2 separate regions of the Homo sapiens genome follow, and region 2 is linked to region 1. A link means that fine-mapping ties the variant in region 1 to the expression of a gene that starts in the linked region. Tissue or cell type: whole blood. Region 1 holds a variant in brackets; the other region holds the start of a gene. All regions are shown on one strand. Distances are from middle to middle.

Evidence for each region. PIP is the estimated chance that this variant, and not a neighbour inherited with it, causes the effect.
Region 2: it holds the start of MTAP, and the variant in region 1 is fine-mapped to the expression of MTAP in whole blood (TOPMed, PIP 0.98).

The regions. Positions count from the first base shown.
Region 1 is chr9:21,842,000-21,846,239 of GRCh38, reverse strand. All of the region lies in intron 5 of MTAP (methylthioadenosine phosphorylase), which reads right to left. Among named protein-coding and RNA genes, the nearest start is that of MTAP, 41 kb to the right of the region's middle. The variant G/T (reference allele first, on the strand shown) is at 2,413.
Region 2 is chr9:21,800,836-21,805,075 of GRCh38, reverse strand. It overlaps MTAP (methylthioadenosine phosphorylase), which reads right to left and starts at 2,440. Exons shown (of 8, transcript NM_002451.4): 1 at 2,295-2,440. The coding sequence starts at 2,327. RefSeq lists enhancers at 1,598-1,807, 2,302-2,930, 2,931-3,561 and a silencer at 2,098-2,257.

The sequences.
Region 1 (4,240 bases):
GTTGCATTTGCTTTTGGGTTGTTGATCATGAACTCTTTGCCTAAGCCAAGGCCTAGATAGGTTTTTCCGATGTTATTTTCTAGAATTTTTATGGTTTCAGGTCTTAGATTTAAGTCTTTGATGCATCTTGCATTGATTTTTATATGAGAGATGAAGATCCAGTTTCATTCTTCTACATCTGGCTTGCCAATTATCCTGCAACATTTGTTAAATAGGGTGTCCTTTCCTCAGTGTATGTTTTTGTTTTGCTTTTTCAAAGATCAGTTGGCTGTAAATATTTGGCTTTATTTCTGGATACTCTATTCTGTTCCACTGGTCTGCATGCCTACTTTTATACCAGTACCATGCTGTTTTGATAACTATAGCCTTGTAGTATAGTTTGATGTCAGGTAATGTGATACCTCCAGATTGTTCTTTTTGCTTAGTCTTGCTTTGGCTATATGGGCTCTTTTTTTGGTCTCACATAAATTTTAGGATTTTTTTTTTTATATTTCTGTGAACAATGATGGTGGTATTCTGAAGGAAACTGCATTGAATTTGTGGATTGCTTTTGGCAGAAATATGATACTTTTATATTTCTGTGAAGAATGATGGTGGTACTCTGAAGGAAACTGCATTGAATTTGTGGATTGCTTTTTGGCAGATTGCTTTTGTAAGAATTCTTAACAATATTAATTCTGCCCATCCCTGAGCATGGTATGTTTCCATTTTTTTGTATTATCTATAATTTCTTTCAGCAGTGTTCTGTAGTTCTCCTTGTAGAGATCTTTCATGTCCTTGGTTAGGCATTTTACTTTTTTTTTCCTGCAACTGTTGTAAAGCAGGTTGAGTTCTTGATTTGATTCTCAGCTTGGTTGCTGTTGGTCTATAAAAGTGCTATTGATTTGAGTATATTGATTTTGCATCTTGAAACTTTGCTGAATTCATTTATCTAGGAGCTTTTTGGATGAGTCTTTAGGGTTTTCTAGGTATACGATCATATCATTGGTGAACAGCAACAGTTTGACTTCCTCTTTACTGATTTTTTACCCTTTATTTCTTTCTCTTGTCTGATTGCTCTGGCTAGGACATCCTGTATTATGTTGAACAGAAGTGGTGAAAGTGGGAATCTTGTCTTGTTTCAGTTCTCAGAGGGAATGCTTTCAACTTTTCCCTGTTCAATATAACACTGGCTGTGGGTTTGTCATAGATGGCTTTTTTTTTTTTTTTGAGACGGAGTCTCGCTCTGTTGCCCAGGCTGGAGTGCAGTGGCGTGATCTCAGCTCACTGCAAGCTCCACCTCCCGGGTTCACGCCATTCACTGCCTCGGCCTCCCGAGTAGCTGGGACTACAGGCGCCCGCTACCATGCCCGGCTAATTTTTTTGTATTTTTAGTAGAGATGGGGTTTCACCGTGTTAGCCAGGATGGTCTCGATCTGACCTTGTGATCCGCCCGCCTTGGCCTCCCAAAGTGCTGGGATTACAGGTGTGAGCCACCGTGCCCAGCCCATAGATGGCTTTTATTACCTTGAGGTACGTCCCTTCTATGCCAATTTTGCTGAGGGTTTTAATTATAACTAGATGGAGGATTGTGTCAAATGCTTTTTCTGCATCTATTGAGATGACCATGTGATTTTTGTTTTAAATTATGTTTATGTGATGTATCACATTTATTGACTTGCCTATGTTAAACCATCCCTTCATCACTGGTATGAAACCCACTTGACCATGGTGTATTATCTTTTTCATATGCTGTTGGATTTGGTTAGCTAGTAATTTGTTGAGGATTTTTGCATCTACGTACATCAGGGATATTGGTCTGTAGTTGTCTTTTTTTATTATGTTCTTTTCTGATTTTGTAATTAGGGGGATACTGGCTTCACAGAATGAATTAGGAAGGATTCCTGCTTTCTCTGTCTTTTGGAATAGTTTCAGTAAGATTGGTACCAGTTCTTTGAATGTCTGATAGAATTCAGCTGTGAATCCCTCTGGTCTTGGATGTTTTCTTTGTTGGCAATTTTTTAAAATTACTGTTTCAATCTTCCTACTTGTTATTGGTCTGTTTAGGGTTTCCATTTCTTCCTGATTTAATTGGGGAGGGTGGTATATTTCCAAGAATTTACTCATCTCCTCTAGATTTTCTAGTTTGTGTGCATAAAGGTGTTCATAGTAGCCTTGAATAGTCTTTTGTATTCTGTGGTATTGGTTGTAATATCTCCTGTTTCATTTCTCATTGAGCTTATTTGGATCTTTTCTCTTCTTGGTTAATTTCACTAATGGTCTATCAATTTTAAATTTTCAAATATTTTTGTTTCATTTATCTTTTGTATTTTTTTGTTTCAATTTCATTTAGTTCTGCTCTGATCTCTGCTGTTTCTTTTCTTCTGCTAGGTTTGGGTTTGCTTTGTTCTTGTTTTTCTAGTTCCTTGAAGT[G/T]TGACCTTAGATTGTTGATTTGTCCTCCTTCAGACTTTTTGATGTAGGAATTTAATGCTATGAACTTTCCCATTAGCACCACTTTTTCTGTATCCCAGAGGTTTTGATAAGTTGTGTCACTATAATCATTCAGCTCAAAGAATATTTTAATTTCCATCTTGACTTTACTGTTGACCTAAAGATCATTCAGGAGCAGATTATTTCATTTCCAAGTATTTGTATAGTTTTGAGGATTCTTCTTGGAGTTAATTTCCAATTTTATTCCACTTTGATCTGAGAGAGTACTTGATATAATTTTGATTTTCAAATTTGTTGAGACTTGTTTTGTGGCATATGTTCTATTTTGGAGAATGTTCCATGTGCTGATGAAAAGAATGTATATTCTGCAGTTGTTGGGTATATATATTTGTTAAGTCCATTTGTTCTAGGTTATAGTTTAAGTCCATTGTTTCCTTGTTGACTTTCTGTCTTGAGGACCTGTCTAGTGCCGTCAGTGGAGTACTTAAGTGCCCCACTATTATTGTGTTACCATCTATGTCATTTCTTAGGCCTATTAGTAATTGTTTGATATATTTGGGAGCTCAAGTGTTAAGTGCATATATATTTAGAAATGTGATACTTTCCTGTTGGACTACTCCTTTTATCATTATATAATGTCCCTCTTTGCTTTAACTGTTGTTGTTTTAAAGTCTGTTCTTTTCTGATATAAAACTAGCTCCTCCTAATTGCTTTTGGTTTCCATTTGCATGGAATATCTTTTTCCACCCTTTTACCTTAAGTTTTTGTGAGTTCATGTGTGCTAGGTGATTCTCCTGAAGACTGCAGATACTTAGTTGGTAGATTTTTATCCATTCTGCCATTGCGTATCTTTTCTTAAGTGGGGCATTTAGGTCATTTACATTCGACATCAGTATTGGGATGTGAGGTACTGTTCTATTCATCATGCTAGCTTTTGCCTAAAGACGTTGTTCTTTCACCATTGTATTATTGTTTTATAGGTCTTGTGAGATTTACGCTTTAATGAGGTTCTATTTTGGTGTATTTTGAGGTTTTGTTTCAAGATTTAGAACTCCTTTAAGCATTTCTTGTAGTGTTGGCTCAATAGTGGCAAATTCTCTCAGCATTTGTTTGTCTGAAAAAGACTATCTCTCCTTCAATTATGAAGCTTAGTTTTACTGGATACAAAATTCTTGGCTGAGAATAATTTTGTTTCAAGAGGTTAAAAATGGGACTCCAATCCCTTCTGGCTTCTGGCTTGTAAGATTTCTGCTGAGAAGTCTGCTATTAATCTGATAGGTTTTCCTTTATAGGTTATCTGATGTTTTTGTCTCACAGTTCTTAAGATTCTTTCATCTTGACTTTAGATAGCCTGATAAATATGTGCCTAGCTGATCATCTTTTTGCAATAAATTTCCCAGGTGTTCTTTGAGCTTCTTGTATTTGGATGTCTAGATCTGTAGCAAGGCCAGCAAAGTTTTCCTCAAATAAGTTTTCCAAACTTTCAGATTTCTCTTCTTCTGCAGGAACACCAATTATTCTTAGGTTTGGCCATTTAACATAAACCCAAATTTCTTTTAAAATTTCATTTTAAAATTCTTTTTCTTTGTCTTGATTCAGTTAATTCAAGAGCCTTGTCTTCAAGCTCTGAAGTTCTTTCTTCTACTTGTTCTAGCCTATTGTTGAAGCTTTCCACTACATTTTGTATTTCTCTAAGTGTGTCTTTCATTTCCTGAAGCTGTGATTTATTTTTTCTTTATGATATTTCTCTGCAGAAGTTTTCATCCATATCCTGTATTGTTTTTTAAAATTTCTTTATGCTGGTTTTTAC
Region 2 (4,240 bases), 41 kb after region 1:
GGGTTCAGACACACATGTGCCTCCTATACCTATACCTGGGTGGTGTGCAGTGGGCACTGGAGGCAGCCTGCTTTCTGCATACCCTCTGCCTCCCTCTTCAAGATGGACATTCTATCAAGTGCTCATTTTAATTGTGCATTAGGTCACAAGAAAACAGGGCAGAGACCACACTTCAGATTTCAGAAATGCCTCACATCTAGTTGGTGGAATGCCAGGCTCTAGGCCCAATTCTGTCATTATCTAGGTCCAGCTGTGTAATTCTGGATACTTAGCTGACCTTTCTGGGCCTCAACTTTACACCCGCAAAACGGGTTTGTGTGGCTATATGGATGGTCTTGAAGGAACACTCCAGCCCCATCATTCTATAATTTGGGAATAGGATGTGGTTTTTATTAACCTATTTTGCTCTGGACACTGGCACCTCACATCTTCTATACAGAATGTTGCCTTAGAAGTCTGGGGAATACGGTGCTGGCATCATGGAATCTCTACGGCAAAGCTGTCATCTGTTCTAAATTAAAAGAGAAATCAGCAGGCAGTCCTAGCACCATATGTACCTCTTAATTTTATATCCAGAAGCTTGCCAAGACCAAAAATACACACTATTCAATATTTACATCAGGTCTCTGAGAATCCCATTGCCCATTCTGCACTTAAATGCACTGCATTAATTTGAAGGGAAACCCTGTGGCAGGGAGAATGCTAACCAGATTAAAGTAAGACTGTTTTAAACACCATTTCTCCATTTTTAATGGCGCTTGAAGTGTATTCCTGCAAGGATAAGGTGAAAAGTTGTGGCCTAATGATACCTAACACAATAACTTAATAATTTTTGGGGAAAAGATCATTCAAAATTAATCTCAGTTCCCCCACTTATAAGCACTACCACTTAATAAGCTTCTACCATGTGCAACATAGACAATATAATTCTAGCCCTCCTAGCAAATTCTGCAGTAAAATTCTCAGTTTATAGATGAGCACCTAAGAGAAGTCACATACTTCACACGAGTTTCATGAAAACCATTTCTGCCTTGTTTCCGCCAAACAATGAAGGCAGGGGAGAGGCCTTCTATAAATATTTGCTGGATGCAAGATTCTTTTCAAAATGACAAAATAAGTTTCATATATAAGTCTGGATGCAACACCCTTCACCATTCCTCTCATTCTAAGTGGCTCATTTAAACCTGCAAGGGCGTAATAAACTAATCTGGCTGATTACACACTGACCGCAGAAATTCGCCTTCTCCCGGGAAAACTGCAGTCGAGTGTAGGGAATCGAGATGCTTTGGAGAAGATCGCAGACCTTCCTATCCCATAGGCCAAAAATTTCTAAAAATCAAACAAGAACGCATTCTTAGCCAGTAATAAACTGCCTAGAAGAGGTCTTAAGTTTTATCATCAATTTTTCTTTACGTGCTGTAATTCTCTCTCGGAATACTAACCAGGAGAGAAGTGTTTAAAACCCCAGGGAAGCCAGCTGCTACTCTCAGAACTCGTGCCCTCCTCAGCACAAAGCTTCCCACCGCACAATGACCCCTTGTATCAAGGCCTCTCAGGGCCTAGGGCACAAGGAAATTGAACTCTAACTTGCAAGGCTGCAAAACAAAGCAGTTTCAAGCCAGAGGCCTCCAAACAGTGCAGCCCTAAAAACGGACGCCTGTACTCCTTTTCGAAGAAAGTCTCAGAATTCTTACAGTATTACGCTGCTGGGGAAAACTTCAGCGCGGAGAAGGCCTACGTTTGGAGGAAAAAGAAGCCGGAAGCATACAAAAGAGCAAGTAAGCAGTTCTCCCACGTGGGCCGCAGGCAACAAGCAGAGTCAGAGAGCGGAAGCTGGAGTCCCGCAAGGCACCAGGAGACGGTCACAGAAGCTGCAGGCGCCCGGACACCTCCTGACTCCAGCCGGGTGTCTTTCTTGGAAGAAGAGTGGTTCTCAGGAATGGTGGTGGCATGGGTGCAGCCTCTCCCATCCACGACCTCTCTCTCTAAAGGGGTGCCTACGCCCTACAGGGTGCGGGTGCAGATAAGCCAAAAGGTGGTGTGTGTGTGTGTGTGTGTGTGTGTGTGTGTGTGTGTGTGTGTGTGTGTGTTGGCGGTGCGGCAGGGGGATCATTTGCAAGCGTACCCTCTCCTCGCGCGGCAAGTGAGTCCCGAGTGCCGCGCCCCAGTCCCTCCCCGCGGCGGCAAGGGACGCACGGGCCGGGCGCATGGCCCCCGGAGGCGCGGTCCCCCGGCGCGGGGGCGAGAAGGCATCCGGCAGGGCGAACCGCTGCGGCTGGGAGGGCTCATCTCACCTTCACGGCGGTGGTGGTGGTGCCAGAGGCCATGTCTGCACGGGAAAGGAATCTGCAGTGGGCGAGCGCTCGGGACTAAGGGAACCAAGCGAGCCACAGAGCGGTGGCTGTGCCAACCTCACTGCGCGGGAGTGAGCAGTGCGGAGACCAGGGGCGGGCCTTGACTCCTCCTCTTCCTCCCCGGGACAGCTGGATTGGCTGCTTGTGTGGGATCTCCCCCGCCACCCCTTCCCCAAATCGAAGTTCCCGCGTTCCGCCCCTTTTGCAGACCTTTCCGGTTCTCCAGGTTTTTGTCGTTTTTTTTTTTTTTTTATCCCCAGTTATAACTAACGGATAATGATAATAATGGAGACCATTTATAGAGCGCTGTATTGTTCCAGACTGTGTGTTTTGCACTTTAATTGGCTTACTTAACTTTCGCTAAAACCTTATAAGGAAGAGCAGCACTCCCTGCTTGGCCCAATATTAGTGGCGTCGGAGGCCTCAGCTGCAAAATCTGGCCCGGCGGCATTCCAGAAGTTCTCGCGGGAGGGAGAATCCTCACCAAGGCGGGTACTGGCCGGCCACGGAGATTCTCTTAGGCAGCTAACGCGGGGCGGCCGCCGCGGCGGGGGCAAGATTTGTCCTTCCTGCGGCTGCGAACCCACCGCGGGTTTGCGTATTTCCCTTGATTCCTGGAGGACAGAGCTGGGATGGACTTGACCCAAGACTCAGGGATGACGAAAGGGAAATAAACAGAGTAACGTAGTACTGGATAATCTTTCTGATTTACGAACTATGATTTACTCATCTTCAATTTGAGGGGCCGCTTTTAGGGGGTTGAGACCTTGCACAACTCCCAGTCTGGCTCTACCTGGCTGGGGGCATCTTTAACCCGTTCTACGCCGGAGCGGCATCGAATACACCTGGATTCAGAATCCAAACTCAGGTCTCCGTCATTCAACACTAGCAGGACGCACACACACACACACCACGAGCCCTTTACAGGGATAATCCCTCATGCTTACAGCCCCCGTCCCTTCCCTACTGGGGTAATCCAATTTAACCTTCCTTGATGGATTAAGCGTTCTGAAACAAAATAATGGGTGGCAAGGATCTTAAGGGTGGACTCTGAGATGTAGAAATGCTGCAAATTAGCCTGGACGTGGGAGGAGGGCCGAGAAAGGGGATGCTTTCCTCTTTCCTTACAGCAGCAAAACACGGAAACAAAACACAAGTACAATTTAATTCAAAATACCACTGTGTGATGTTAGCCTGGATGCTGCTCATAGAACCTATTTACTTAAACAGTATAGACTTTCGTCCTCACATTACTATAAGCTTTAGGTCTAAATTTTCTCACAATGTAAAGTTTTCTTTCTTCTGTTACAATCATCTATTTCTTTTAAGTTATAAAATGCAATGGCAAAAGAAGAATGAAAGTAGAATCCGGGTGCTCCTTTGAGGAATAGGAGACAGGGAATCCTTCGCGGATGAAGACAATGTAGCTTTCTAGGGGCCTTTCTGCCGATTGCTCTATTGAGGAGCAGGAAGCCCACCACTCAGAAGTGAACCATTGAGGGCACAGGGATGCCCTAGGCTTTATGGCCGCTACCTAAGTAGGGGATCCTAGCCAACTTAAGTGACTTGATATGGTTAACAAGTCCAGTTTCTACTCAGCACTGCCTCTCTGCTAAAAGTTAGACGTTGTAACCAAGTTAGATCCTGTAAGCATAAAATACCCCTAGGCATAGGAGTTGGAAACTTGGCGAGGACCAGGCTGGACTTCTGGACTTTTCTACTATAACTTGCAGGTTAGGGCTCAAGCATTTGCTCTTGAAGATGTGATGTCTGTGAAGAGGAAATTCTTCTAAAGTTTGAATTTCATGTAAACTTACATGTGACAAAATATTATTCTACTTTTGATATTTTCTCAACCACTTAAGATTGTAAAAAAGCATTCTCAG